Linked DNA regions of Homo sapiens. The protein of the gene in region 5 interacts with the protein of the main gene of each other region in a biochemical or structural test. Each region holds a gene or a part of one and is shown on either strand. Other genes may lie near its edges. The genes, in order: LNX1, FAM20C, MPP2, APBA1, NHERF1, TAMALIN and DGKZ.

The links.
Region 1: the proteins of NHERF1 (region 5) and LNX1 interact in a test that uses a peptide from one of them, tested with the Homo sapiens proteins (one large-scale study listed by IntAct).
Region 2: of the proteins of NHERF1 (region 5) and FAM20C, one has a biochemical effect on the other in vitro, tested with the Homo sapiens proteins (one large-scale study listed by IntAct).
Region 3: the proteins of NHERF1 (region 5) and MPP2 interact in a test that uses a peptide from one of them, tested with the Homo sapiens proteins (one large-scale study listed by IntAct).
Region 4: the proteins of NHERF1 (region 5) and APBA1 interact in a test that uses a peptide from one of them, tested with the Homo sapiens proteins (one large-scale study listed by IntAct).
Region 6: the proteins of NHERF1 (region 5) and TAMALIN interact in a test that uses a peptide from one of them, tested with the Homo sapiens proteins (one large-scale study listed by IntAct).
Region 7: the proteins of NHERF1 (region 5) and DGKZ interact in a test that uses a peptide from one of them, tested with the Homo sapiens proteins (one large-scale study listed by IntAct).

The regions. Positions count from the first base shown.
Region 1 is NC_000004.12:53,584,764-53,589,016, forward strand, and holds part of LNX1 (E3 ubiquitin-protein ligase LNX), read right to left. Parts: intron 1-4,253.
Region 2 is NC_000007.14:254,655-258,907, forward strand, and holds part of FAM20C (extracellular serine/threonine protein kinase FAM20C precursor), read left to right. Parts: intron 1-1,194; coding exon 1,195-1,375; intron 1,376-1,999; coding exon 2,000-2,109; intron 2,110-2,350; coding exon 2,351-2,432; intron 2,433-3,991; coding exon 3,992-4,051; intron 4,052-4,253. UniProt on the Homo sapiens protein: Golgi serine/threonine protein kinase that phosphorylates secretory pathway proteins within Ser-x-Glu/pSer motifs and plays a key role in biomineralization of bones and teeth.
Region 3 is NC_000017.11:43,897,125-43,901,377, forward strand, and holds part of MPP2 (MAGUK p55 subfamily member 2), read right to left. Parts: exon of another isoform or gene 4,160-4,253; intron 3,501-4,159; exon of another isoform or gene 3,429-3,500; coding exon of another isoform or gene 3,347-3,428; intron 1,257-3,346; coding exon 1,138-1,256; intron 1-1,137. UniProt on the Homo sapiens protein: Postsynaptic MAGUK scaffold protein that links CADM1 cell adhesion molecules to core components of the postsynaptic density. In CA1 pyramidal neurons, required for synaptic KCNN2-containing channel function and long-term potentiation expression.
Region 4 is NC_000009.12:69,428,914-69,431,836, forward strand, and holds part of APBA1 (amyloid-beta A4 precursor protein-binding family A member 1), read right to left. Parts: intron 2,486-2,923; coding exon 2,414-2,485; 3' UTR 1-2,413. UniProt on the Homo sapiens protein: Putative function in synaptic vesicle exocytosis by binding to Munc18-1, an essential component of the synaptic vesicle exocytotic machinery. May modulate processing of the amyloid-beta precursor protein (APP) and hence formation of APP-beta.
Region 5 is NC_000017.11:74,751,606-74,755,858, reverse strand, and holds part of NHERF1 (Na(+)/H(+) exchange regulatory cofactor NHE-RF1), read right to left. Parts: intron 1-4,253. UniProt on the Homo sapiens protein: Scaffold protein that connects plasma membrane proteins with members of the ezrin/moesin/radixin family and thereby helps to link them to the actin cytoskeleton and to regulate their surface expression. Necessary for recycling of internalized ADRB2.
Region 6 is NC_000012.12:52,013,168-52,017,142, forward strand, and holds the end of TAMALIN (protein TAMALIN), read left to right. Parts: intron 1-519; coding exon 520-613; intron 614-709; coding exon 710-776; intron 777-967; coding exon 968-1,034; intron 1,035-1,526; coding exon 1,527-2,032; 3' UTR 2,033-2,722; downstream 2,723-3,975. UniProt on the Homo sapiens protein: Plays a role in intracellular trafficking and contributes to the macromolecular organization of group 1 metabotropic glutamate receptors (mGluRs) at synapses.
Region 7 is NC_000011.10:46,350,317-46,354,569, reverse strand, and holds part of DGKZ (diacylglycerol kinase zeta), read right to left. Parts: intron 1-4,253. UniProt on the Homo sapiens protein: Diacylglycerol kinase that converts diacylglycerol/DAG into phosphatidic acid/phosphatidate/PA and regulates the respective levels of these two bioactive lipids.

The DNA.
Region 1 (4,253 bases), on a different chromosome or scaffold from region 5:
AAGATCCCTACAGCACCTACCAGCTTCTATCTGAAACACTTCCACTGATGGAGAACTGGTCAGTTTTTCAAATAGCTAGTGCTTCCCACGTTACTTTGACCTTTGGCCTTGTTCTGCCTTTCAGTGTAACGTATATCACATTTGCTTACTCAAAACATGACACACACATCCCCAAATTAAAGACAGCATTGGGTGGTTCCTCCCTTGTTTTTATCTTTGTCTTTGGTTCTTCCAATTGTCTTCCTGGGTAGTCCAGATGGTGGTAAAAGATCTACCCAGGATGCCTTCTAGTTTGTTAAGGTCCCTTTGAAAACCCGTACCTGGAAGTGAAGTTATCCTGTTTTGGTTTGGAGGACTCAGGATTCAGTGGAGTGATCACTTCCTTAACCAGGATACTATGTGTTTACTAATGCAATCTATGATGGTTTTTACTGTTTTGTCTTATTAGATATCTCACACTGTTGACTGGAAGAACTCAGTAGGCCTTTAGAGTACAAAACACTTACTACTGTGGCATGAACATAGAAATAAATGAAGGTAGTGATGATGGCTGCCAATTCTGACTCTCCTTGCCTGTACTTTGCTCAGTATTTCAGCCTCCAAGTGGACAAGAAATCTCTCCATAAGTAGTTGGAAGAGCTTGTGTATATGGTTGTCAGCTGGGGATACAGTGGGTAGAATGAGGGTCCCTGCAAAAGATATATCCATGTCTTAACCCCAGAACCTGTGACTATGACCTTACAGGAAAACGATCTAAGAAGGTGTCATGAGGTTTAGGATCTTGAGATGAGATCATTCTGGATTATCTGAGTGGGTCCTAAATTCAATGACAGATGTCCTTAGACACTTATAAGACAGGAGGAGAAGACACAAACGCAGAGGAGAAGGTGATGTGAGGAGAGAGGCAGAGATTGGAATTATGCACCCACAAGCTAAGGAATGTCTAGAGCTACTAGAAACTGAAAGAGACCAGAGAAGACCCTCTCCTGGAGCCTTCAGAGGAGTGTGGCCCTGCTGTTACCTTTATTTCAAACTTCCAGCCTCCAGAACTGTGAGACAATAAATGGGAGTTGTTTTAAGCCACCAAGTTTATGGGTATTTGTTATGGCAGCCCTAGAAATACAGGGGTTACATATTTCCAGGGGTATTCCTGCAGGAATGGGGTGAATGCTCCCAACGATCCTTTCCAACACTTCTCTATAGGGCTTAGAAATAGGGAAAAATATTTGGAGACAGCAGCCACATAGATTGCTACATATTTAGCAACTCTACCCTATTAGAAAATGTATTAATTTCCCTTTAATTCATTAATAAGTTAGAATACAGATGCTTTCAGAGATGACTGTTAGACTAAATTTGCAAAGGGCCTCAAGGGAAAAAAAAAAGGCCACAGATAGAATGGCTGAGTGTGTGTATGTTGTGGAAGATGTAATATAAGTCAGACAATCATATTTAATGAGGAGTCTGAAAACACATGGTGACTCATGTATTCATGCGAGTATGCAGGAGCCTAAACATGCTGCGCTCTATTCAGAAAAGGCCACGTGACTGTCAAAAGCAGTCATAAGCAAGTTATGCAAATCATCTCAGCAGATAGCAATGACATATTTAGACCTCCCCATCATGCATGTGCTATTGTGCCAAGAAGCTATTAAAGAAAATTCTTGGAGAGTTTCGACTCTGCTGCTGGTGAAGTCTTTTGTGTGCCTGTGACAAATGCGTCAAACACAAGAAGCAAATAAGAGTCACTTGAAAAAAATCATGGAGTCTAAGTCCACATATTCTAAGTCACAAATTAGTGATGTTACCAAAAATGTCCCCGGTTAATTGGGATAGAACTTGCTCCCACTGTTAGAAGTGTACTAGTCAGCCTACCATGCCAAGGAACTTGGCTTTCTAGAGCAGAGAGAAGTTCTTTCAGATGGATAGGTGAAGAAGGGCAAAGGCAAAGAGAACAAGAGTAAACAGATGATTGTAAAAACTGCAAATCTCAAATTGGTGGATCATCTTGTCTACCTTCTACCTGAGGCAGAAATTCTTTTTAGAATATAAAATAAAAAATAATGATTATTACTATTTAATGAGCAGTTTGCAATATGCAAGATACTGTGCTGGGTATTCAACATGTTTTTTCATTTAATCTAAAATAATCCTATGAGATCATTAAGGTAATCTTCACTTTACAGATGAGTGTATGTGCAGCTGAAAAACACAAATCCTCTTTGTCATTCATTTATTAATTCATTCACTCATCCAGCAAACATACACCATGCACTAAATATGCCAAAAAAAATGATCACCTTCAGTGACAAGAAACTCAGTATCCCAAAAGGCAACCTACTACATTTTCGGACAACTCTAATTCATAGAAAGTTCTTCCTCTTACTGATCTGAAGTGTGTATCTGTGTAACTAACCAAATAGGTCACTGTGGTGTCCTCATGTCACACAGAACAAAATGGAGGAAAGGGTAAACACAGAAAGTTTACGGGAGACAACAAACGTTTTCTGTTCCTGATTTCAGCTCAGTGTAGTTTTCCACATTTTATGGTTTTTTTATGGTTTTCATGTCAACCCTATTCTTTGGGGATAGTTAATGATTAAATCATATTAACCCAGGAACAGTGACACAGTCTTCCTTCCAAACAGTTTTGAAAAGCCTTTGATACTTTGGAGGCATTGTCAGAGGACAATAAATTTGCCAACCACATAAAAGAGAGTCTATGTAATGTCAGTACATAAATATTAGGAATAGTTGTATGCTACTGGGAAGTCCATGAATACTGAGGCAATGAGGAGGACACACTTTAGAGCATCTCTTATGTGTCCTCGCCTTGCCAGCATCTTACAGACGGCATTTCGAGTAGTCAAGATCGTATCCTGGTCAAGAGAGTGAAAGGAAAAAAAAAGTAGTCAAGATCCCACCAGACCCTATTTTCTCCACTTTAAGTGAGGAATTCAAATATAGAAAGGAAGTCTTAGCCAAGGTCTTGGAGACAAGGAGACAGTGACAGGTGAAGCCAGGAAATCACCGCTCCAGGAAGACCCGCTGTTTACTCACATCACAGAAGCCCACTCCCCACAGGTTTATGAAAGACCAGGCATTTCCACTGGCAGCCACTCTACCCTGGAACTCCAAGAGAAACAACACAATCTTTGTTAACAGGTTTTCCTCCTCTGCCTTTGGGAGCCTTTTGGGAAATCTTTTTTTGCTCAGTCTTTGGCCCTCAACGTACTACCGTTTCCATCATTATTACATCCAGATAGTAGCATGACCTAAGATGTCTAACTGTAAGCAATATAAAAATGTTTAAAATAATATAACAATAGTTAACACTCACTGAACATTTAAAATATGCCAGGCACTTTCCATGTAATTATTTCAATTATTCCTCCCAACAGCTCTGAGTCTGGGAAGTATTTCATTTCCCAGCTGATGAAACCAAAGCAAAGAAATATTAAGGAACTTATTTAGGCTAGCAACTACATGGTAGAACTGGGTCTGATACACAGACCTGTCTGATACTATCAACTATGCCTTCCTTTCAATATTTACAAGTAACACTGTGGCAGGTACCATTCCAAGCACTTTACACATTTCAACCCATTTCATCTTCATGATAACCCTATTACACAGCTGATGAGAGCAGCTTAAAGAATCTGTCCCAGGTCACACAGGTAGCACATGGTAGATCTGGGTTTCAAAAACCCAGGTAGGCAGCCTGATGCCAGAGACCAGACCACTATTCTAAAGCAGTAGCATTGCCCCACCTAGAATGGAATGAATAAGATTGATATTTTCTAGTGAGGCACTACCCAGTCCCCCCAGTCAGTCTGACCTACCCACCTGGACATGCAGCCCACCTTGCTTCAGTTGTAAGGATGGAGGGGGCCTGTGAAGTACACCATTTTAGCGTCCTTTGGGGAAAAATGTAGCTAAGGAAACTGACATGCAGGGGGGTTGAGGTTCTCCCTTAGGGCTCCGTAGGCAAGCTAGTAGAACAGTAGAACCCACTGACCTCAATCCACTAATCCCTTACTCTTGAATGATGAAAATTTGTGGTATCCCTGAAGGGCGAGACCCAGAGAAGTGACCAGGGCCCTGGGCACACAACTGCTCATATGCAATGACTCAAGGTCACCCAAGGGCACAGGGTATTGCATGACAAGGCCAATCACATCCAATGGGTCATGAACCTCCTTCTATGGTACAATGAGGCTCCAAACCAGGGGCTTCCTCCTGCCAGAGGCTCG
Region 2 (4,253 bases), on a different chromosome or scaffold from region 5:
TTTTAGTATATCCACAATGGTGTGCAACCATCACCACTGTCTAAATCCAGAATGTCCTGCTGACCCCAAAAAGGAGCCCCGTACCATGAGCAGGCGGTCACCGTTCCTCACCCCGCAGCCCTCGACGAGCAGCGTCCCACCCCCAGTCTATCTGGATTTGCCTGTTCTGGGCGTTTCATATTAAGAGGGTCATACGACGTGTGGCCTCCTCTGTCTGGCCTCCTTCGCGGAGCACAGGGTTCTCGGGTTCAGTGAGGGCTTCATTCCTCTTCTTGTTTCATTTCGTTTCGTGTCATCGCACGGATGGACCATGTTCACCTGGCGTGTCCACTCCTCTCTTGATGGACATTTGGGTGGATTCTCTCTTTTTCGGCTGTGGTGAGCGGTGCTGCTGTGAGCATTCGTGTCTGAGTTTTTGTATAGAAATGTTTTCTCTTCTCTTAGGGGTTTACATGGGAGGGGAGTTCCTGGGTCACGTGGAAACACTGTGTTTAATCAGTTGGGGGCTGCAGACCGTTTCCGCCGTGGCTGTGCCGTGTGCACCCCCCGCCAGCAGCGCACAGAGGTGGCGGTTCCCCCGTCCCAGCCGGCAGCTGCTCTTTTGATGGAAGCCATCCCAGCAGACAGGAGATGGTGCCTCACCGTGGCTTTGATTTGCATCTCCCCGGTGACTCACGATGGCGCCCGTCTCTTCTCATGCTTGTCGGCCATCAGGGTCGTCTTTGGAGAATCAGCTGTTCAAGCCCTCTGCCCATTTATTAGTTTTTTTTGTCTTTTTGTGATTGAGTGATGAGAGTTCTTCATACACTCTAAATGCTAGATCCTCAGATGTGCGGTTTGCAAACGTTTTCTACCATTCTGTGGATTGTATCTTCACTTTCTTGACAATATGAATGCATTTTTTAAAAGACTAAATGTTGGCCCTAGGGTTTCCATAGACCAGCCCCTGATTTTCGAGGGTTCAGGCCGGGCTCTGCCTCTGGGGAGCTGTGTGGCCTCGGGACGTCAGCTCTGTGGGTTCATTTTTCTGTACCGTGGGGTGGAGGTGTTTGCTGGGATTGATGGGGAACTGTGGGTGAGTCCTGCCCATGAGAAGCACCAGGCAGAGCCCGGCCCGGCCTTGGGGGCCGTGAGACCACAGGTGAGGACGCAGCCCTGTGCGGCCCTGGTAACCCGCAGCCTGTCCCTCCCCAGCCAACAACATCTGCTTCTACGGCGAGTGTTCCTACTACTGCTCCACGGAGCACGCCCTGTGCGGGAAGCCAGACCAGATCGAGGGCTCGCTGGCGGCCTTCCTGCCCGACCTGTCCCTGGCCAAGAGGAAGACCTGGCGGAACCCTTGGCGGCGTTCCTACCACAAGCGCAAGAAGGCCGAGTGAGTGCGGGGCCGGGGGGCTGGCGTCCGGCCACCCTACGGCAGAGGGAGCTGGGCCTGGGCGGGCATGGGAGGGTCGGCGCCCACGGGGGTGGCAGAGATGGGTGCAGAGCCTGCTGTGCGATGCTGGCCTGTGTGAGATGACCGCTTCCTGATGAGACGGTGGCAGAGGGCGTCCTTACTCCAGTATTTCCATGTGCTTCCCTGACCCGGGCCGGCCTGCCCACCAGGTCCCTCGAATCGGGGCCTCTCAGCGTTTGAGCTCTGCTCTCGCCCCGTCCCTCTCCTCACTCCTGCGGGAGAAACGGCCCCTGTTCTTTCCGCCCCACGTTGTCCTCGTGAGTGTGTAGTCCAGGTCCTGTTTCCCCACAGAGACTCTGCAAAAAACACGGGGCCCAGAGGTGAAGGCAGCTCCAGGTGGGGTCACCCCGAGGCAGGGCAGAGCGGCTCCGTCCCCTCCCACACCCGTGCTCCCGCTAATGCAGCCTCAGCGCCGCAGCCCGGGCGGGTCCATCTGCAGACGCCAAGGTCCCTGCCGCAGTGTTTCTCTTCTGCTCCTCATGGCACGCGCCGGGCTCCCCAGAATCTGGCCTGGGCCCCCCGTCTCACGCTGGCTCCCCGCAGGTGGGAGGTGGACCCTGACTACTGCGAGGAGGTGAAGCAGACACCGCCCTACGACAGCAGCCACCGCATCCTGGACGTCATGGACATGACGATCTTCGACTTCCTCATGGGTACGTCCCGCAGGGGCACGGGGTCCCCGTGTCACTCGCCTTGCGTGGAGCGGATGCACGCAGGGCTCTGCAGGGCACACTCCGTGGCACGGCCCGGCTGCGGTCCTGTGGCCTGTGAAGGGGCCAGATTGCTTAGAGGTCACGCTGGCAGGAGGAGACGCCGCTCTGCAGAGCACAGAGGCCTCTGAGCTACGTGGCCCGGCTCCCCACGAGCTGTGACACTTTCTGCCTCTCTCCGCAGGAAACATGGACCGTCACCACTACGAGACTTTTGAGAAGTTTGGGAATGAAACGTTCATCATCCACTTAGACAATGGAAGAGGGTGAGCCTGTCCTCGCCCCTGCACACCCAGGGAAGGGCCGGCCACCTCCCAGCTACCTGCAGCCCACCTGAGACCCTGGGGACGGGGGGAGCAGACCCTCCAGTGGAGGGATGGGAATGTCGCAAAGGCCCATCTCAGAGCCAGATGCAGAGGGCGGCCCCAGGCCCCAACCAGGAGGGAGGGCCGCCCCGGGAGTGGGACCTCCGAGGCACAGGAATGCTGCAGACCAAGTCCCGGCAGAGCTGGTGTTACCTGGGAAACGGAGGCCAGGAGAGGCTGCTGGTAGGAAGAGCAGGACCGTGCAGAATAGATGGGCCTCTGCCTGCACGCGGTACCTGGAGCCAGCCAGCGGGGGATAGGCGGCCTCTGCGGCCGCTGCTGGCCTGCCACGGGGGGTCTTGGGCGGCGCTGTGAGACCCTGGTTACCAGGGAGGGTGACCCCTAATAAGCAAAGCATGGAGGCGAGTAACTCGGGCAGGAGGACGTCCATTCCCAGGCTCGGAGGCCTCAGAGAGATGGACTTTGGGCACTTCAATAGCTAAACTGTGGGCTGACGCTCCCTGGAGCCATCTCAACTCGGCTGCCCAGGACCCTTCCCCAGGCCAGAGGCCAGGACCCCACATACAGGGCTGGGGACAGGCGGGGTGGACCCACTGCCTGGGGTGCTGGAGATGGGCAGGGTGGACCCACTGCCCGGGGTGCTGGAGATGGGCTGGGTGGACCCACTGCCCGGGGTGCTGGAGATGGGCAGGGTGGACCCACTGCCTGGGGTGCTGGAGATGGGGCTGGGTGGACCCACTGCCCAGGATGCTGGAGATGGGCTGGGTGGACACACTGCCTGGGGTGCTGGAGATGCCCGGGGTGGACCCACTGCCTGAGGTGCTGGAGATAGGCAGTGTGGACCCACTGCCTGGGGTGCTGGAGATGGGGCTGGGTGGACCCACTGCCCGGGTGCTGGAGATAGGCAGTGTGGACCCACTGCCTGGGGTGCTGGAGATGGGGCTGGGTGGACCCACTGCCCGGGGTGTTGGAGATAGGCGGGGTGGACCCACTGACTGGGGTGCTGGAGATAGGCAGGGTGGACCCACTGCCTGAGGTGCTGGAGATAGGCAGGGTGGACCCACTGACTGGGGTGCTGGAGATGGGTGGGGTGGACCCACTGCCTGAGGTGCTGGAGATAGGCAGGGTGGACCCACTGCCTGGGGTGCTGGAGATGGGTGGGATGGACCCACTGCCCGGGGTGCTGGAGATGGGCAGGGTGGACCCACTGCCTGAGGTGCTGGAGATGGGCAGGGTGGACCCACTGCCCGGGATGCTGGAGATGGGTGGGGTGGACCCACTGCCTGGGGTGCTGGAGATGGGTGGGATGGACCCACTGCCTGGGGTGCTGGAGATGGGTGGGATGGACCCACTGCCCGGGGTGCTGGAGATGGGCTGGGTGGACCCACTGCCTGGGGTGTCGGGTACAGGCAGGTGGACCCATGGCCCAGCTCCCAGCCCAGCAGCCTGTTAGGAACCTTGTACAGGGGCCCTTGACAATTCTGCTTTTCTTCTGGAAGGTTTGGGAAGTATTCGCACGACGAGCTCTCCATCCTGGTGCCGCTACAGCAGTGCTGCAGGTACAGCCCCTGCCGGAGCCGGCTCCAGCTCCACCCTCCTCCCTACTGCGCAGGAGACAGAGGAGGCCACAGCCTTCCCCACCCCACCCCGGCCATCACATGGGAGAGAAAAGGCCCCGAATTCAACCACAGCCCTGAATTCAACCCACACCCTCACTCGGCGGCCTGGAGGCGCAGACCTCACCCGCCCACCACCCCAGGC
Region 3 (4,253 bases), about 31 Mb from region 5:
CCCCAACAGTCCTCCACATGGCTGCCAAAACACCCACATTTGGCCATCATATCCCTGCTTAAATAATGTAAAGCCTGCCAGGCACAGTGGCTCATGCCTGTAATCCCAGCACTTTGGAAGGCTGAGGCAGGCAGATCACCTGAGGTCAGGAATTGGAGACCAGCCTGACCAACATGGAGAAACCCCATCTCTACTAAAACTACAAAATTAGCTGGGCGTGGTGGCACATGCCTGTAATCCCAGCTACTCGGGAGACTGAGGCAGAAGAATCACTTGAACTCAGGAGGTGGAGGTTGCAGTGAGCCAAGATCACGCCATTGCACTCCAGCCTGGGCAACAAGAGCAAAACTCCTTCTCAAAACAAAACAAAACAAAAAAAACCATAAAGCCTCCCTGATACTCACAGAAGGATGCCCAAGCACCCACATACAGCCCCCAGTGCCCTCCAGACCTGCCAACCTTTGCACAGCTCGCATTGTCTTACACTTGAGGCTCAGCCTCACACCAGCCCTTCCAATCCCCTGCACACTCCTGACTCTTTCTTACCTCTGTGCTTCTGCTCAAGCTCTTCTGTGGCCCAGAATGCCCTCCCCCTCTTCCTCATTCTTCCACTCAGCTCAAGTGGTCCTTCCTCCAGGAAGCCCTCCTCACCCACCCCAGGCTGGGTTAGACACCTGTCCTTTATGCTCCCAAAATGCATAGTGTATCCACCTCTATCACTGTCATTACCAAATTGTCCTATAATTTTCTCTTTTAGTCAATCTCTCCCCAACCTGATACATGGCAGGTGACCTTAGAAAGACATACACACAAAACGCCCAAAGGCAGAAGGACAGGCAAGATGAATTCTAGAGATTCTCCAACATGTGCATGCTAGCCCGCACCAATCACACACTCCACAAGCTGGCAGTCAACAAACATCCACCCACGCACTCACCAGACAGGTGTGGGGGCAGCCCCCTCTACCTGCAGCCACTCAGGTCATCACCTGGGCATGATTTTCTTCTACAATCCCCTTCAGGGGGGCCTCTTGTGCCACATGTCCCATTCCCAAAGCCCTCTGTAGCTAATACCCCATCCCCTACTGTGCCTCCCCAAGCACAGTGCCCTTGTGCCCACCTCCCTGGAGCACTGTACCTTGGCCAGGGATCTTACTATGGGACTTTCCATAATGCCTCGAAGGAAGATCAGGTCCAGCTCTGCAGCCCCCGTGGCACTGGGGAGGGATCCCAAGTTGTCCAGGACTTGCTGCATGGCTGGGGGAAGGTACGGGCAGTGAGATACACAGGTACCAGCTGGGTACAGAAGACCAAAACACACCACAATACTTGCCACTTCCCCACCCCCATGTCCCACAGAAGGCAGCCCCTCCCCGGCAACATTCCCCTCCCTGCCCAGCACAGGCACCCCAGGCCCTTGAATGCCTGGGACAGGGATCCTGGAGGAAGGGGACAATTTCCTTGGCCTGTTCTCTCCACCCTAGGTAATGCCAGCCTGAGCAGGTGGGAGGCTCCAGGCAGCTGGAAGAGACTCTGAGGTGGAGAGAAGGGAGAAAGGGAAGCAGGTGTCAGGTTGCAGATCCTGCCCTGCACCAGAAAACCACAAGCTGTTGGGTGGATCACTTGAGGCCAGGAGTTCAAGACCAGCCTGGGCAACAAGGCAAAACCCCATCTCTACTAAAAATACCAAAATTAGCCAGGCATAGTGGTGTAGGTCTGTAATTCTAGCTACTCAGGAGGCTGAGGCAGGAGAACTGCTTGAACCTGTGAGGCAGAGATTGCAGTGAGCTGAGATCACGCCACTGCACTCCAGCCTGGGTGGCAGAGCAAGACTGTCTCTGGCCGGGCGCGGTGGCTCACGCCTGTAATCCCAGCACTTTGGGAGGCCGAAGCGGGTGGATTGCCTGAGGTCAAGAGTTCAAGACCAGCCTGGCCAACACAGGGAAACCCTGTCTCTACTAAAAATACAAAAAATTAGCTGGGCGTAGTGGCAGGCGCCTGTAATCCCAGCTACTCGGGAGGCTGAGGCAGGAAAATCGCTTGAACCCAGGAGGCGGAGGTTGCAGTAAGCTGAGATCCTGCCATTGCCCTCCATCCTGGGCGACAGAGCAAGACTCCGTCTCAAAAAAAAAAAAAAGAAAAAGAAAAGAAAACCACAAGCTCCTCACTCAACCTCTAGATGGGCTGAAGCCCAGGGCTCAGCCACCTGTACCTGGCAGGCTCAAGGATGAGACAGACAGTACTCGGAGCAAGTCCGTGAGTACAGGCCCAGAGTCAAGCAGGCAGCCACACAGGAGCCAGGGCCTGCAGCCTCCAGTCTAAGCACCACTAATTCAGTGTGACATTGTACAAGTCACTGTCCCTCACTGGCCTCAGTCTTTCCTGCCTGTAAAATGGATGGATTGGGCTAGATGATGTTTACAGGCCTTCAGCTCTGAGTGACAATGATCTATAATCACTGAGAAATTAACATGGATGATAGGAAGTCAAAGCTGAGGCCTGGAACGCTGGCAGGAGCTAGGGAAACAGGCACTGGAGGCCTTGGTGTGACCCAAAGGCTGAGGTCACACCAAGTCATCACAGGGATAAGCAAACTCTCAGCCCGAAATGGGACATAATGGAGGACACGATAACACCTGCAGCTGGGCCGCAACAATGCCCCCGAGACCTGAGGTGAGGGCTGCCTTCACTCACTGACAGAGGTGGGAGTTCCAGGCTGTGGCAAGTTCCGGGGAAAGGAAGCGAGAAGCAGAATGTGCCCAGCTGGGGGCAGAGATGGGCGAAGGGTATCATTACTCTGCCACCATGCCGCCCATGCCTACATCTGCATAACAGTACCCAAGCCACGGAGGACGGCGGAGGATGCACCCCTGGCGCCTCTCAATGCTCTTGTCAGTGCCCCCCTCCTCCAGGAAGGAACAGGAGTGGGGAGGAGGGGGCACTGGAACTGGAGCTGGCAGAGATGGTTCAGGGACTCCTGGACTCCCATCTCCTTCCTCCTCCTGCTCCCTGCCTTCTCCAGAAAAAAAAGTGCAAGCTTGCCCTTCAGACCCCTCTTGCCCAGGCCGGGGCTTGGCATTGGTCAGAGACCTGCGAGGCCCTCAGTGGGCTCTGAAAGAGGCCAGGGCAGGGACCCTTCCCTTCCTGCCAGGGTATGCCAGATTCCCTCCGTTATCTAGGGGAGGACTGAGCCAAGGGAGTTGGTGCCCTCTGCCCAGGACAGCTCTCCTGAAGGTGCCCTCAGATGACCTCTCCCAGGCCACCCTCCCCAGATGCCCCGACTCTGCTGGAGGAAGGTAGGCTAAGGGGCCAGCTGCCCCGCCCCCATCTGGCCCGCCCTTCCCTACCTTCCCTCTGGAGCTCCGCTTCCTCAGAAGACTCCAGGGATATACCCTCCAAGGAGACCCCGCTGCCTGGGCTGCCTGCCATGGCGGCCCCCAGACCCGGGGACTCCCGGAGCGTCCTACACGCCGCCGTCTACCGCCTCCCCAGCCAAAGCCTGGCCGGGCTGGGGAAGGCGGGAGTCGAGGAGCGCCCTCTGAGGAACCAGCCAATGGGAAGGCTCAGCCGCCGTGACCGCCTTGCTGATTGGCTAAAGCCCTGACTGGCGCTGCGCGGTGCAGAGCAGGCGGTAACCCGGGTGGGAGAAGAGTGGTGGGAGGGAGCCCTAGTCCCACAGATTGCCCGATCCCCAGCATGTCAGTGTCGGTGGGGATGGGGAGGAGGCGGCTAACAGGAAGTTTTGAGGAGGGGGTAGGCATGCTGCCCCTTCAAGACTGGCGCGGTACTCCGAGACCCTCCCCTCACAGCCAGCTTCAGGAGACCCGAGGGAGAAAAGTCTTGGCCCATCTTGTCCCTGTACCCTCTTTTCTAGAAGCCCCTCCTCTAATACACCCCATGCCACCTCCTCCCTATGCCCTCTGACCTCTGCTCTCAGTCCCCTCTCCAGGCCCTGTTTCCTTTACAATAGTCCCTCAGTCTAAGGAAGTCCCCAAGAACGACTCAGCCCTCCACCGGGAGGCAGCCTCACTTGGGCATGGGGCAAATACCTCAAGCCTCAGACGCCTCCCCCTACCCACCCTTGGTCAGCCACTGGGAGGCAGGGTACGTGGGGGAGGTGGCATCGCTGTGGGTAGGGATGGTGCCCCAGCCCTGCTTACCCCTCGCCTCACAGCAGCTTCTTCCCCTCCCCCATCTCCCATGAGTTCTTCCTCTTAATGAAGGGGATGATGCCCAGGAAGCAAGTCAGGCATC
Region 4 (2,923 bases), on a different chromosome or scaffold from region 5:
ATGTTACAATGTCAGTCCTCTAGGAGAGCTTGCAGAATTGGCTTTTTCAGCACCTCTCAAAGTTTACAAGGTTTTTGTGCAATAGGAATAGAAAGTATATTCTCTCCTTTAGGTGAACATACATAACCGTTATGTGCAGGTTGTACAGGGATGCACTACTGGAGTTCTGTCCCCTGGCCAGTCGTGGGCGGGCCTCTGTGGCACTGCCCAGGTGCCTAGGGACAGACAGGCATGGGCCCCTACGATGATTTTCCAAGGCTCCTGATGCCTGAAATACCACCAGTAACACTTCATTCCTGTTCTATCCACTCTTATTGGCAGAGGAAAGATGAACTGGCTGATGACTCTTTAGTGTCTCACTGTATCACCAGATACTCTACAGCAAATGGAGAACCCTGGCCATGGTTCCTTCCTGGTCCTCACGTTTGTGATGGGTTGACCTTGAGGCTGGTCTCCCAGAAACATTCTGTAAAGCATCCTTCAAAGAAGTCCTGGGGAGCTTTACGGACCATCCCAGAGCCCCTGGCCCCACCGGGTGCCACTCTCTGCAGCAGCAGAAGTCCCTTTCCCCCCAGGGCACCTGGGCAGCCAGCGGCCTCCCTTCCTCAGGGCTCCTTTGTAACACAGTGAAACTGAGAGTGCCACTGCTCGTTCCTGTCAAGCACTGAGCTTCCCTGATTCTAAGCAGAAAACTCAGAAGATGCAGAGATCTCGGGGAATTGATCACAGAACTCTCTGGTTGAAGTCTCTTGTCCCTAATCTTGTTATAGTCACTTTGCTCCCTCCTTAGAATCCCTCCATTCTCTCTATAAATACATGCTACCCACCATTTGCTCACTGAGTTCCTATTTCCATAGACACAACATAAATATCTCGGATGCAGAGAACAGGGACTATATTAATTACAAAATATAATAGTTTCTCTTCCCCTGTCTCTACTGAGGTCATGAATGAAACAAAACAAAAGCAAAGCCAAATCACACCTCACATGAACACAAAATGCTCTTTGGACCAAGTGAAAACTGGCTCAGAATTATAATATTACTAAAACATCTACACTGAACTGAGACGGAAGCATAAATATGAGGCACCTGATGAAAACACGGAACAATTCCACACCAGCCAAAAATGCTCTCAGGCCCACAAGGCAGCAAGAGGGTGTTTATGGACCACATCTGGGGATTCTGAGGCATAACTTGAGGTTGCTATTGTCTCCTTAATTTTGTGGTTTATGTACTATTCTGGCCTTTCCAATATCACATCCGCCTAGTGGCCCTGAGCAGAGAAGAAAGTTGGTCTTGCCTTGGGCCAGAAAACAAGACGCAATTGCACCTGCAGCTTGCCTTCTTGGGAACAGTCCCTCCTTCCCAGACTCCTGGGATGTGTGTTCGGCAGGGAGGGGAGTCCAGGAGGAGGATGCTTTAAGCCAAAGTGGTGCTGGAGGGGCTGGGCCTCAGCGCAGAGAGGGCAGGTCTCTCAGGATGAGGCTGAGCAGCCCCCGCCTGCCTGGCCACCTGCCAGGGAAGGGGCCTTCCAGAGAGGTGGGTTTCCAGGGGATCTGTGTGCCTAATCTTCAGCTTGTCTCACTGGTGGTGGGAGCAGGGAAGGGTGATATGCAAATGGGACTGTGTGTGTGTGTGTGTGTGTGAGAGAGAGAGAAGCAGACAGTACCTGCCTGTGTTTATCTAATGGTTGATAACTTGAGGACAACCTGGTAAAGCTTCAGATGCCCCATGAATTGCCAAGCTCTCTGTGACACTATGGTGTCCTTGCCCAAGGCAGTTATTTCCCCTTTTATCCTGGGGTGAGAAGGCTCGTATTAGAAAACACACATACGTTGAAATTAGAACTAGCAATAGAAGAGGTTTAAGGTTGGCTCAGAGATTCTGGGAAGAAATAATGTATGGTGCCCCAACTACATGGCAGGCAGTGCATAACCTTAATGACGTGGGCTGGCCCTGGGTACTACCACATTCCCACAGATAAACTCAGAGAGCAGGGATCAGCAACTGGGTTTTAGGCACTGCTGAATCAGCTGCTTTGCTGCCCCGCGAGCTCCTTTTAAGAAGTCTGCACCTCCTGGGAAGGGAGGATTCTCCCTCAAGCAGTGACAGCCCACCCCCTGGACACACCCAGAAAGCCCTCCAGGATGGTCCTGGGTCAGTACCAGGTGGGTGCTGGCTGCTCTCCATCCTCAAGGGAGTGCATACGAAACTTCCCTGGTATTGAAAAAAAAAAAAAAAAAAAAGCAAATCGGAGAGAGTAAAGAGGTCCTTGTGGATTCTTCTCTTCCTGTGTAAAACCAAATGCTGGGCGCGAGAGGGGAAAGTCTCAGTGGACACAGGGATGCAGCACGAGAAACACAACCACGAAGAGGAGAGTCCTCCATGCATGCCACCGCGTGTGGCCGCGGTCAGATGTAAACAGGCTGCTCCTGGGCCGTCAGCAGCCTGTACATCGCGGCTGGCATTGTCTTCATATGAATCTGAGGGTAAAGAACACACTTTAGTGGGGGGCTGAGGCTGGGGGCTGGCTGCGTGGGCACTGCCCAGGGCTGGCCAGAGAGGCAGTGCCTCTCCCACAGAGGGCTTTGAAGATACTCCCTACCGCCCAGCCACCACCAGGGACCTGACCCAGGGTGGCCTCCAGGAACAGTGGAATCCACTGACTTTCTCAAAAGCTTAGGGGTGACAGAAATGAACAACAAAAACCAAGCAAGGCTTATTTCTCAGTCAAATGCTCTCGCTCTCACCAGACCCTACCCTTTTAAAAGCAAGAACTCTGAAAATGGAGGAAGGGCTCCAGGCTTCTCAGGGTGCCTGCCTCCCTCATCTCTCTTGGCAGATGAGGCAAGGATGACAAATCAGCCCTAGAACAGCAGTGATGATTGATAGCAGTGATGAATGACAGCAGTGATGACTGA
Region 5 (4,253 bases):
CATCCTTTTATTTGTACAATGGCTTCAAAATCTGGTGTGCATTTTGCACACACAGCACGTCTGCATGTGGACCAGCACATCTCGAGTGCCCGGGAGCCTCGCGAAGCTGGTGGCTGCTGCCCGGACAGCACAGACCTGTGCTGCCTGAGACTGCCCCAAACACACTCCTCTAAATACCCCTGGCCATTGCTGTTCCCCTGACCTTAGCACAGGGAGAGGCTGCAGCCTGTCTCGGAGAATTCAGAGCTCTCAGCACCCAGCAGTGAGTGGGACTTGAACCTGGCCAGCATTCTCTGTGTGTTCCCACACCACCCCGAGGTGACCTGGACCTCAGGGAATCTGTAACTCTTGTCCTTTTCTAGGGCCTAGGGACCTAAACATTGCCTAGGAGTCTGGGGACATGGTGAGTTGTCCTACCATGAGGGGAAGGCTTCGGTCAACAGTGAAGACCACCCTTGAGGGGGGCTCTCTGTGCAGGTTCTGGGGAGTGAGGGCGGGGGTAGATACTTGGTTACCAGATTCCAGATTGACCTATCACATCACGTGAGAAGGGATGGGGACAGGAGCCTGCCACTTATGGGCTGAGGCACTGCAAGGATGCCCTGCTAGGGACAGGAGCACCTGGAAGCCCTGGATCCTTACAGGAAGCCAGTTCAAGCAGCCTGAATTTATACCACTGTGATGGTCCAGCTGTGGCTCAGAATATGATGGGCAGAAACACCTGGCAGAGTCAGGCTTCAAGCACAGCCTACTCATGTGGCCAAATGGCTGTGCAGGCACTAGAGTCAGAGGGTTGGGTTCCAAGACACACCCCTGCGCTGTGTGGGAGGAGTCGCTAGCTCAGAGTCCTGGGACCCGCCATGGCCACCTTAACTGATCAAGCCTCAGCCTCCATAGGCAGAGAATGGGGCCAATATCTGCCTCACTGGTGGTCATGTGGATTAAATGAGACAGGCAAGGTTAGTACTTAGCACAGTGCTAGACACAAATAGTAGCTATCATGTATTGAACACTTACTGTCAACCTACAAAATAGAGAAAACAATAGCTAATTTGTCTGGGGGACAATGAAATGCATATTGGCTGGGTGTGGTGGCTCATGCCTATAATCCCAGCACTTTGGGAGACCGAGGCAGGTGGATTACCTGAGGTCAGGAGTTTGAAACCAGCCTGGCCAATGTGGTGAAACCCCATCTCTACTAAAAATACAAAAATTAGCAGGGTGTTGTGACAGGTGCCACCCAGCCTGGCCACCGTGGTGAAACTCCGTCTCTACTAAAAATACAAAAATTAGCAGGGTGTGGTGGCGGGTGTTTGTAATCCTAGCTACATGGAAGGCTGAGGCAGGACAATTGCTTGAACTTGAGAGACGGAGGTTGCAGTGAGCCGAGATCACACCACTGCACTCCAGCCTGGGCAACAGAGCAAGACTGTCTCAGGAAAAAAAAAAAAAAAAAAAAGAAAGAAAGAAAGAAAGAAAGAAAGAAATGCATGTCAACATCTTTATGTCATAGGTAGAGTGCCTAAAGGCACTGTACAAACCTGTTTCCTTCCAGGTAGGGCCACTCTATCTTAGAGCAACGAAAACAGAGGAACATTTGTTATTGGGGTCTAGAGCTCTGGTTTCTCCCTGTAAAGAGTCCTGCAGCACCAACAAGACCTCGGCTGAGCTTCTTCTTTCTTTTTTTTTTATTTTGGAGATGAGTCTCACTCTGCTGCTCGGGCTGGAGTGCAGTGGCGCGATCTCGGCTCACTGAAACCTCCACCTCCCAGGTTCAAGCCATTCTCCTGCCTCAGACTCCCGAGTAGCTGGGATTACAGGCACCTGCCACCACGCCTCGCTAATTTTTGTATTTTTAGTAGAGATGGGTTTTTACCATGTTGGCCAGGCTGGTCTTGAACTCCTGACCTCAACTCCTGACCTCAACTGATCCACCCGCCTCGGCCTCCCAAAGTGCTGGGATTACAGGCGTGAGCCACCGTGCCTGGCCTGAGTTTCTTATTAATTTCCCACCCCACTTTCCCAGGGACCATTGAGATGGGACATCTGGGAAAGGGGAGAAGGACCCCATCTAGACATATGGAGTTCCTTGAGAAGGAAGCCCCCATTCACCCCCCTCCCCCTGTTTTTTTGGTAGAGACGAGGTCTCACTATGTTGCCCAGGCTGGTCTCAAACTCCTGGGCTTAAGCGATCCTCCCGCCTCAGCCTCCCGAAGTGATGGGATTACAGGCACAAGTCACTGCGCCCGGCCAGGAAGCCCCCATCTATCTCCAAGAGAATCATCTCCAGAATTACTGAGTTAACAGGAGCTTGAAGGTAAGAACCAGGGGCTACACTGTTTTGCCAGCAAAGAAAGAGATCCCAACACACAAACAATCACATACCCTGTCCATTTCAAATCCAAACACCCAGCAGCTCAAGCTCTGTTCTGCCCTACCAGAGCTCCAACTTGGTTGGTGTAAAATGGCCCGCCCGCCCTGGGAAAGAGGTTGATGGCCCTCCAGCTAACTGTGCCCCACCACCCACCTTGCTCCCTGGGGTGCCTGCACTCTGACTCTGGGATCAGGGTCAGGGCTGGCAGGAAACACCCCAAACTAGCACTTTCATTTACAAACCTGTCATGCCACCAAATCTTCCCAATAACCCTGCAGGCAGTGCCTTTCACAGAGGTGGAGGCTGAGGGTTGCAGGGAAAAATGAACTCCCAGGATCCCAGAACCAGCACACGGCAGAGCTGGGATTCAAACACTGATCTGGCTGACCCCAAAGCCTGGACTTTTGGCTTTCTAGTTTTCAAATAGAAGCTGCTAGCAGGCAAGAAAGAAGAGTGGGTAGGTTCTATCTGGAATTCCAATCTCTGGGCGGGGCGGGATGAGCTGAATGAGGACAAAGGTCCCTGACTGTTGTTATATATTCATTCATTAATTCAAAAACTGTTTTTGAGAGCCTCCCTACCATGTGCCAAGGACAGCGCTGGGGATAGAAACACAAATAGGCCACAGTTGATGCCCTTGGGCTTACCACGTAGTGGAGAAAAAGGTCACAAACAGATGATTAAAATATTGTGTGTTTAGAGCGATAAAAGATGTAAGGACAAAGAGGAGGCGGAGGCCGAGGCTGGCAGATCACCTCAGCCCAGGAGTTCAAGACCAGCCTGGGCAACACGGTGAAACTCCATCTCTACAAAGAATTTAAAAATTAGCTGGGAATAGTGGTGCATGCCTGTAGTCCCAGCTACTAGGGAGAATGAGGTGGGAGGATCGATTGAGCCCTGGAGGTCGAGGCTGCAGCGAGGCGAGGTTGCGACACCACTCCAGCCTGGGTGGAATCTGTCTCAAAAAAAACAAAAACAAAAACAAAAACAAAAAAAGTGAAGGAAAGGAAATGCTAACTCTGCCTACTGGATTAAGGACAGGCTCCCTGGGAGGGGACAGAAGTGTCAGGGTGTGAAGGCTTAGAGGCTAGAGGGGAATTCGGACCCTGGGTGTGGTTTTGGGGGTAGGGAGGCAGTGGTGAGAACAGGCTGCCAGATGGAGAAGGGCCATGGAACAGCATATAACTCTTAAAAAAAAAAAAGAAAAAATTTAATAGAGACAGGGTCTTGTCATGTTGCCTAGGCTGGTCTCAAACTCCTGGGCTCAGGCGATCCTCCCACTTTGGCCTCCCAAAGTGCTGGGATTACAGGTGTGAGCCACCACACCTGGCCACAACGTATCATTCTTAACCCACAGTGACCATCGATCAGGCACTGACTGTGTGCCAGGCTTGGCCACAGTGGCATTTGCCCAACTAGGCAGGCTGACCCAGCGCTAGCTGCCCCATGATAGGTGTGCAATGATCACTATGAAATATGTATTCATTCCAATACCAACTGCAAAGGCTGGCTGAGCCTGGACTCAGTGCCAGGCACTGAGCTACGTGCTTTACACACAGCCTCATGCAATTCCGAGGTAGCTGCCATAACCCCCAACTTACACAAGAGGAAATGGAGGCTTACAGAGGTGAGGTAACTTGGCTTCGCACAGCCTGGCTAGTACAGCTGAGCTGGCTCGGCTCTGCCCGGCCGGCACTCTGAACCCAGACTCAAGGGTTTAGGCCTCATCCTGTGACTGGTGGTGAATGGGGGGAGGAGGGCTTTAAGCAGGGGAACAGCAGGGCGGGTCTTGCTGCTCCTCTCTCCCCACGGGGCAGGCGGGGAAGGCCATCCACAAAGCAAAGCCGGTGGGCAGAGCTGGAGAGCCACTTCCACCTCC
Region 6 (3,975 bases), on a different chromosome or scaffold from region 5:
CCCGGGTTCACGCCATTCTCCTGCCTCAGCCTCCCGAGTAGCTGGGACTACAGGCGCCTGCTACCACGCCCGGCTAATTTTTTGTATTTTTAGTAGAGACGGGGTTTCACCGTGTTAGCCAGGATGGTCTCGATCTCCTGACCTCGTGATCCGCCCGCCTCGGCCTCCCAAAGTGCTGGGATTACAGGCGTGAGCCACCGCGCCCGGCCGGACAGAACTTCTTGAGGGCAGAGTGAGGGTGTTGGGTGTGTGAGGTCCCCACCCTTTGGCTGGGGTGCTGGGCGTGGACAACCTGGTAGTCACTACAGGCCCACAAGAATGGCTGTGGTTCTGTGTGTTTGGATCGAGTATGAGAGATGTCAGAGGAGATCTACAGAGAACCATGAGGAGTTGGAGGAGGGAGTTCAGGAGTATTCCCTGGAGTTACTACCCACCCTTCTCCCCTTTCTGGCTAAGGTAGGAGGCTGGTATTCTAGCATGCCCCATGGAGCAAATCTAACCCCCTTGTCTGCCTGGCAGGGGACACCATCGCCAGCGTCAATGGCCTGAATGTGGAAGGCATCCGGCATCGAGAGATTGTGGACATCATTAAGGCGTCAGGCAATGTTCTCAGGTATGTCTGGGAGCCGAGGTGCCTGAATTCCTGAGCTCAGCCTCTTGGTATTTCCTCAGCCTGTGGCTCACTCAGGCTTTGATTCTCCAACCTCAGACTGGAAACTCTATATGGGACATCAATTCGGAAGGCAGAACTGGAGGCTCGTCTGCAGTACCTGAAGGTAGGGGAACCTAGATAACGTCCAGCCTCCACCCTCCTCTTCCCAAGCCTCTGCCCTGTGGGGGGTCACTTACAGCTGAATCTCCTGTAACTGAAGATTTCTTTTGTCTACTCCCTGATCCCTCGTCTGTACCCACGTCCTGCTAGTTTCCTGCTAGCTTGTGACAGTGGGGTGGGGACTGTCTCTTGCAGCAAACCCTGTATGAGAAGTGGGGAGAGTACAGGTCCCTAATGGTGCAGGAGCAGCGGCTGGTGCATGGTGAGTAGATCCCGGGGTGTGAGGGGCCACTTGTTCTGCTACAGACACCCCATCTGCGCTTCCCCCTCAGAACTGGCGGGTTCTAGTAAAGAACGGTTTACTAGTAAACCTCCACAGTAAAGCAAGGTTTGTTGAGCTACTACTACTTTGGGTACTGCCGCAGCCACATTTCTGGTTATTCTCACACTAGCCCTCTGCAGGTAAGTAACAGATAGTGTCATCTTCACTTTACAGAGGGGAACACCAGGGCTCAAAGAGTTTGTGTCAATTATTTCCGAGGCCCGTTTGTGCTAAGCGGCCCCCATAAGGATCTGAGTGATAATTCCTGATTTGCGGGTGAGGGAAGTAGGGTCTCAGGTTTGTGCCTGGCCAGGGCCACAGAGATGGTCAGCAGGACGGAGCGGGGACGCCCCGCCCATGCCCTCCGACCCTTTGCAGAGGCCACCACGGTCCAGGCCTGACCCGCCCCCTACCTCTCCCGTCTCTGCGCAGGCCTGGTGGTGAAGGACCCCAGCATCTACGACACGCTGGAGTCGGTGCGCTCCTGCCTCTACGGCGCGGGCCTGCTCCCGGGCTCGCTGCCCTTCGGGCCTCTGCTCGCCGTGCCCGGGCGTCCCCGCGGAGGCGCCCGACGGGCCAGGGGCGACGCCGACGACGCCGTCTACCACACGTGCTTCTTCGGGGACTCCGAGCCGCCGGCGCTGCCGCCCCCGCCGCCCCCGGCCCGCGCCTTCGGCCCGGGCCCCGCCGAGACCCCTGCCGTGGGGCCGGGCCCTGGGCCGCGGGCCGCGCTGAGCCGCAGCGCCAGTGTGCGGTGCGCGGGCCCTGGCGGGGGCGGAGGCGGGGGCGCGCCGGGCGCGCTCTGGACTGAGGCTCGCGAGCAGGCCCTATGCGGCCCCGGCCTGCGCAAAACCAAGTACCGCAGCTTCCGCCGGCGGCTGCTCAAGTTCATCCCCGGACTCAACCGCTCCCTGGAGGAGGAGGAGAGCCAGCTGTAGGGGCGGGGGCGGGCAGGGAGGTATTTATTTATTTATTCGCAACAGCCAGCGCTAAAAGAGGGGGAGGCCGAGCCAAGAGGACCCCAGGAGCCCAGAGCAGCGGGAGAGGGTCCTTCCTAGCCTCGGCCCGCCGGGTCGGTTCCTGGCTGGTGTCTGCTGAGGGAGTGGGGGGCCCAGCCCCTTCTCTTCTCCCCCGCCAAACCACAGTGGGAGCTGGGGCAGGGGGAGAGCCAGGCAATCGGGGGCCAAAGATGGGGGTGCTCGCCTACAGTCTGCATCTGTAGTGCCTTGTGGGGTATCCAGGAACACCCTCCCAGCAGGGGATGGGAACCCTGTCCCATGAAGCCCTCTCCTCAGCTTTACTTGCTCCCCCGCCCTTAGCCTTGGGGAGAAATGGCCCGTGGTGGGCTGACCCCCCACCCTCCACACACACAGTTCCATGACCCAGCGGGCCCCCAGGGGCATCAGGTGCTGGTCCTCCTCCCTCCTGGCCTCGACCCCTAAGGGCTTCGCCCCTCCCAGGGGCCTGTAACTAAGTCGGGTCCTGCCAGGCAGGGGGCCTGTGTTCTGTGCCCCTTGGGAGACAGGAACTGGCGAGTTCAGGTGGGGTGGGGACAGCACAGACTGTTCCACCGTTGTGCATATTGTTGCTTCTGAACCACAAACTGTATAAATGGATGGTTTTTTGCATCTGTGTCAGTGTGGTGACTGCCTGAGGGGGAGGATTGGGCTGGGGCAAGCTCTGACTCCACCATCCCAACCCCCGCCCAACGCACACACATCTTGTTTTCTTGCAGCCTGAAGCCAGGGAAATAGGCTGGGAGATTTAAACTTACATGTATGGGCCTGAGCTGGAGGCCCCACGCTTCTTCACAACTTGAGCCTCCCTCCCCAGATACCCAAGCAGGTGGTGACCAAGGCTTGCCTCAAGTCCTTAGCCATCCCTGTAGAAATACGTGTGCTTGGCATGCCTTTCTTCCCAGCTTCTGAGGTCTCCCTTGAGGGGCACAAGCCAGATCTGTAGGGACCTGAGGCATTACCACCTGGCCTGTGAGGGGCCCAATCACGGCTCACTCTGTTGTTCTAGCAGTCTTCAGCGGTTTCCCACCCCAGGATGAGATTTTTCTTTTTTGAGATGGAGTCTCCCTCTGTTGCCCAGGCTGGAGTGCAGTGGCCCGATCTCAGTTCATTGTAACCTCTGTCTCCTGGATTCAAGTGATTCTCCCGCCTCAGCCTCCCGAGTAGCTGAGGTTACAGGCAGGCGCCACCACACCCAGCTAATTGTTGTATTTTTAGTAGAGACGGGGTTTCACCATGTTGGCCAGGCTGGTCTCGAACTCCTGACCTCAGGTGATCTGCCTGCCTTGGCCTCCCAAAATGCTGAGATTACATGCGTGAGCCACCGCGCCCGGCCTCCCAGGATGAGAGTCTGACCCCTGCCGGCCTCTGCTTCTTACTCCCCGCTCTGGCTGCGCTGCTGGCTGTACCTGGCACACTTCAGACCCCTTCTATCAGGGTCTGTGCTCTTACCCCTCCCACAGGTGGCTCCTTCAGTCCTCAGCCCTGCCTCCCGAAGACCTTCCCACCCAGTGGTAAATACAGTCATGCCCTCCCCTGTGACAGCCCTGTTTTATTCCCATCAGACTGTGCATCGCCATCCGAGACTGTCTTGACTTTTATGGGTTTATCTTTGCCTGCCCGCCCCACCCGGGAGGATGCACGCTTCTTGCACAGGGCTCAGGAGCCTTGTCTGTCTTCACTGCTTTTTTCTTGCCTGATGCTAGCACATGGTAGACCCTCAATACAGTGTGTGCCAACATGGTGTGTGCTCAAGCATCTCCAAGTGGTAGTCACGACCTCTTTGAAGTGACCTGTCGGGTCATACAGCAAGCTAGTGTCAGAGCTGGGCCTGGGACTTGAGGCCCCTGCTCCAGTGCTCCTCC
Region 7 (4,253 bases), on a different chromosome or scaffold from region 5:
GCACACTTTTCTAACGCCAAGATATTTAATGTGTTTAGAAAGATTTCAAAATCATTTCTTAAAAAGACTCCAGAGGCTGGGCACAGTGGCTCAGGCCTGTAATCTCAGCAACTCAGGAGGCCAAGGTGGGAGGATCACTTAAGGCCAGGAGTTCGAGACCAACCTGGGCAACATAGCAGGACCTCGTCTCTACAAAAGAAAGAAAGAAAGAAAAAATGAGCCCGGTATGGGGGCCCCCACCTATAGTCCTAGCTACTCGGGAGGCTGAGGTGGAAGGATTGCTTGAGCCTAGGGGTTTGAAATTACAGTGAGCTATGATTGTGCCACTGCACTCCAGCCTGGGTGACAGAGGGAGATCCTGTGTCCTACAAAAGACCCCTTGAGGGAGACCAGCCCCCTAGAGCTCCCTGGGTCTACCAGGGATGGTTTTGGCAGCCTGTCCCTCACCCTTTCAGGGCCCTCAGGATGGAAGGAAGGTCTCCCCCAAGGGGATGCCTTCCAGAGGTGGGTGGGTGGTGGCAGGCTGTGTCAGTGGGGTGTCCGTGTGGGTTGGGGAGCAAGAACCAGCTTGCCCCCTTTCACAACCGCCCCCGCCTCTCTCTGTAAAATGTCAGCAAGCTGGGGAAGGGGGCGGAGAGACAGGCAAGCTGTTAACCCGCGAGATGCTGGGGTGTGGGCGGTGCGGGCCCAGGCTCCCAGACAGCTATTTTGGCATGTGCTGAGATGGGCTCATCCCTGGCAGGGGAGAGGCCTCTACGTGGGAGCTCTGAACTGATGCTCTGCCAGGAGCAAGGGGAGGAGGTCTCAGTGTAGATGAGGAGGATGCTGGGGCCCTCCCTCTCCTCTCAGACCTCTCACCATGAGGCACTGGGTACGAGTGAAGCGATCTTCCCTGCCCCAGACCAGCCACCGACCCCTGGGTGGTATGGGGGCTCCTCTGAGCATGTCCATTGGGCTTTAGACTCCCTGCGCCCTTAAAGCAAGGAAAAAGATCAGACTTGTCCTCCACGCCAGACCCAGCCCGGACGCCACATGATGACGGGCTCACAGCCCCAGTCTCTTTACCAAGGGTCTCTCCCAGTCCAGCCTGCTCCCCTGACTTGAGGGATCTTGGTGGCCATTCTCCCTTGGGGGTCCAGGTCAGATTATCTCATGGGTCTCACACCGTTGGCACCGGAGGCAAAGACCTTTCACTAAACCCCATGGAGCACTCAAACCTCTTCTTAGGTCTTCCCAGTTTAGGGATGGCAAATAATAGAAGAAAAGAGTACTCCTAAGTAGAGTGGCCCAATGTCATGAGAAGATCATTGGGCTGGGCTCCAGTGTGAGCTGGGGGATCCTGGCCAGGCCCCTGACCTTTCTGAGCCTTGGTTTTCTTATCTGCAAAATGGGAATCAAACCAACTACAAAGATGTTATGAAGATCACATGAAACTGATGAATTTACAAGCTTCTGGCAGCTGTTAATCACCAAAGACAGAGGAGCTGGAACGCCACTCCTGTCTCTTCAGCCTCTCCCTCCCCTCCGCGGCCACAGAGCCCTTGGTCTCACTCGAACCTGCTTTCCCGACCTAACCACGTCTCTGGTGTTTCAGCGAGGCAGGGGGTGAAGAGGAAAGATGGCAGAATGATAGCTCTTCCAGGGCATTTGGTTAGTTTTGGCCTACCCTCCACACCTGTGACCCAAGTGCCAGCCAAGTCCTGTGCTGAAACCCACACTGCAGGCTGGATGTGGGGCTGACCCCGACACGGAACAGAGGAGAGCCAAGAAGAGCAAGGAATGAGTGCCTGGCACCGCTCAGGGGTGGCCCAGGAACTCGGGGAGCGGAAGAACCTGGCCGCAGGTGTGGCAGATCCCGCTTCCTGCACACACTGCCCCCGCAGCTGACTTAGAGGGCTGTTCAAGGAGGAGGCAGAGGGGGCAGGGAGGAGAGGTGGTCAGCCTGTCCTGGGTCCTGTGATGAGGCCTTAATGAACATGGCCCTGGAAGCCCAGCGCGGGAGTCCCAGATGACCCCGGCTAGCTGCGAGAACTTGGCTGAGTCAAGGCCACCTGGCTGGGCCTGGGCCTCAGGGGACGGGAGGGGTGGGGCCAGGAGGCTAGAGGCACCCACCCAGCCTGCCCTGGGCCGCACTGATTGGCTCCGCCCGGCAGCTAGAGCTGCAGGTAACTTCCAGCGAGTGCCTGTGGGTCCCCGTGGGCCTGTGGACTGGCGGAAGGAGAAGCTCCTCGCCCACCGGCCTCCCACAACGGCAGCTGTCGCCCCCTTGTGTCGCTCCAGAGGCACTGCAGGGCAGCCTCCAGGGGCTGCTTCCACACCTCCCAATTCTCTCCTGCCTTAAAGTGGGTGGAAGGGCTCCGGATCCCTGCTTCTCCGAGGGGCCCGCGCGGCCTAAGACTCAGGGCTAACCTATGACTCCACTTTCACCTCTGCCCCGGGGGGGCCACTGGCGAATTCTGGAGAGGCCTCCAGGGAGCCGAGGAGGGCAGGCCCGTTTCTCTCACTCTCCCCCAGCCCAGCTGCCTGGAGCCTCAGCTTTCTCTCACCAGGGGTCACTTAGTCCTTCCTCTGTCCTTGCCTGAGGGGACACCAACTCTCAAGCTCCTGTGCCAACCGAGAATCCTGGGCAGCTCCACATCCCAGGATCTGACCTTTTTGGAGTATGGCATGGAGACAAAATGACAAGAATTGTCATTCCCTCCCCTGACAGCGTTTGGCACAGAGGGAGACTGTGAGAATTCTACACTGGGTTCCCAGCAGGGGCCAGCTGTATACTCTGGCACCTGACCTTGTGTGGGGAGCAAACACAGTGAGATGAACGCAGCTCGGCCACTGAGGCCCATTTTTCTTTCCCAAACTTGCTGGAACCCAAGGATTCTAGGTTGTCCCTGCCTCTCACAGCAACCTGGGCTGCTCCCAGCATTAGCCCAGGTGAGACAAACCACTCAAAGAGGTTTCCTTTCGCTCCCAGACACCCTGGCACCATAGACAGGGTTCTCACCTCTGCAAAAGAGGCGTCCCTCAACACGTCCCTCCCTATTCATTGCAGAACCAACTCAAACAGGGGCTGCTTCTGCTCAGGCACCCGCTGGGCACCCTCTGCAGCCCTGACTTCAGGGCCATGCTCGCTGGGGCCGTGTGGCAGTGCCTCTAAATGGGACCCATTGTCTCACACTGGTTCTGCAGGTGTGCCTCCTGCCCTCTGGGAGCTTGTGACTTTGAGCACCGTGAAGGGCAGGGGATGGCGGCACAGACGCTCAGGCTCCTAGGGGCTCTGAGGCCAAGGCTCCTTATGTCTACATGTGTGAGGTGCCAGGTAATTTCTGATGCCCCTGGGGTGTAAAACCAGCTAATCCAGAAGCCCTGTGACCTGCCAGGATCAGGCTGCTGAGACCAGGCCAGAGGATAAGCGGGTCCTCCTTCCCGGTGGGTCCTGGAGGAGGAGAGAGAGTCCACTTCTCTCCCACTCCTGGCTGCCCAATCCTTAGGGTCAACAGAAGCTTAAATGGAAAGGTCCTGCCTGCCCTCTGCTCAGGGTAGAGGAAAACTAAATACCCTGGGATCAGAGTAGGGGCCTGTACCTCCTCTCCTCCTCCTCCTCCTCAGGGAGGAGACTGATAGTTCCGGCAAGAAGTAAGGTGGGATGCAGTTGGGGTGGGAGGAATCCACAAGCTGGGGAGAATCATGGCTCACTGAGCTAAAAAAAAAAAAAAAGGGAGATGGCAAGCTGCCACCCCCCGATTCTGAGAGGATGACGCCAGTTGTGTGGGGCAGAGATGGACTTTAAGGAAAAGCCTCTTTCAGCCCCACAGGGGCTGCCATTCAGAGACTGTCCTACCCAGAGGGGCCAGGATGGCAAACATGTGGCCCATGTGCCATCAAGACCCCCTGCCAAGCCCACAGCAGACACTGCTAATTGTTCATGGAACTCTCCCCATGAGCCAGGGCCCGCATGCAGAATTCTCCACCTGGCTTCAGCAGCCACTGCCAACCTAGTTGTTACCCTTGATCTTCCCGTCGGGCCCCTCAACCCCAAGGCTGGATGTGTGTATGTGGGTGGGGTGGGGAGGGGGCGGGATGGGGGACATGGGGTGGATGACTGGGGAGAAGCAAGAGCTAGGTTAAGAGCTAGCATGGAGCTGGGATAAGATGAAGGGCTGGTTTCAGCTGGGGCTTCGAGGACTTTTACCTGAGGCTGCAACAAACAAACAAAGGTAGCAGGACCAGCCAAGCAGCATTGGAGGGGGCAGAAC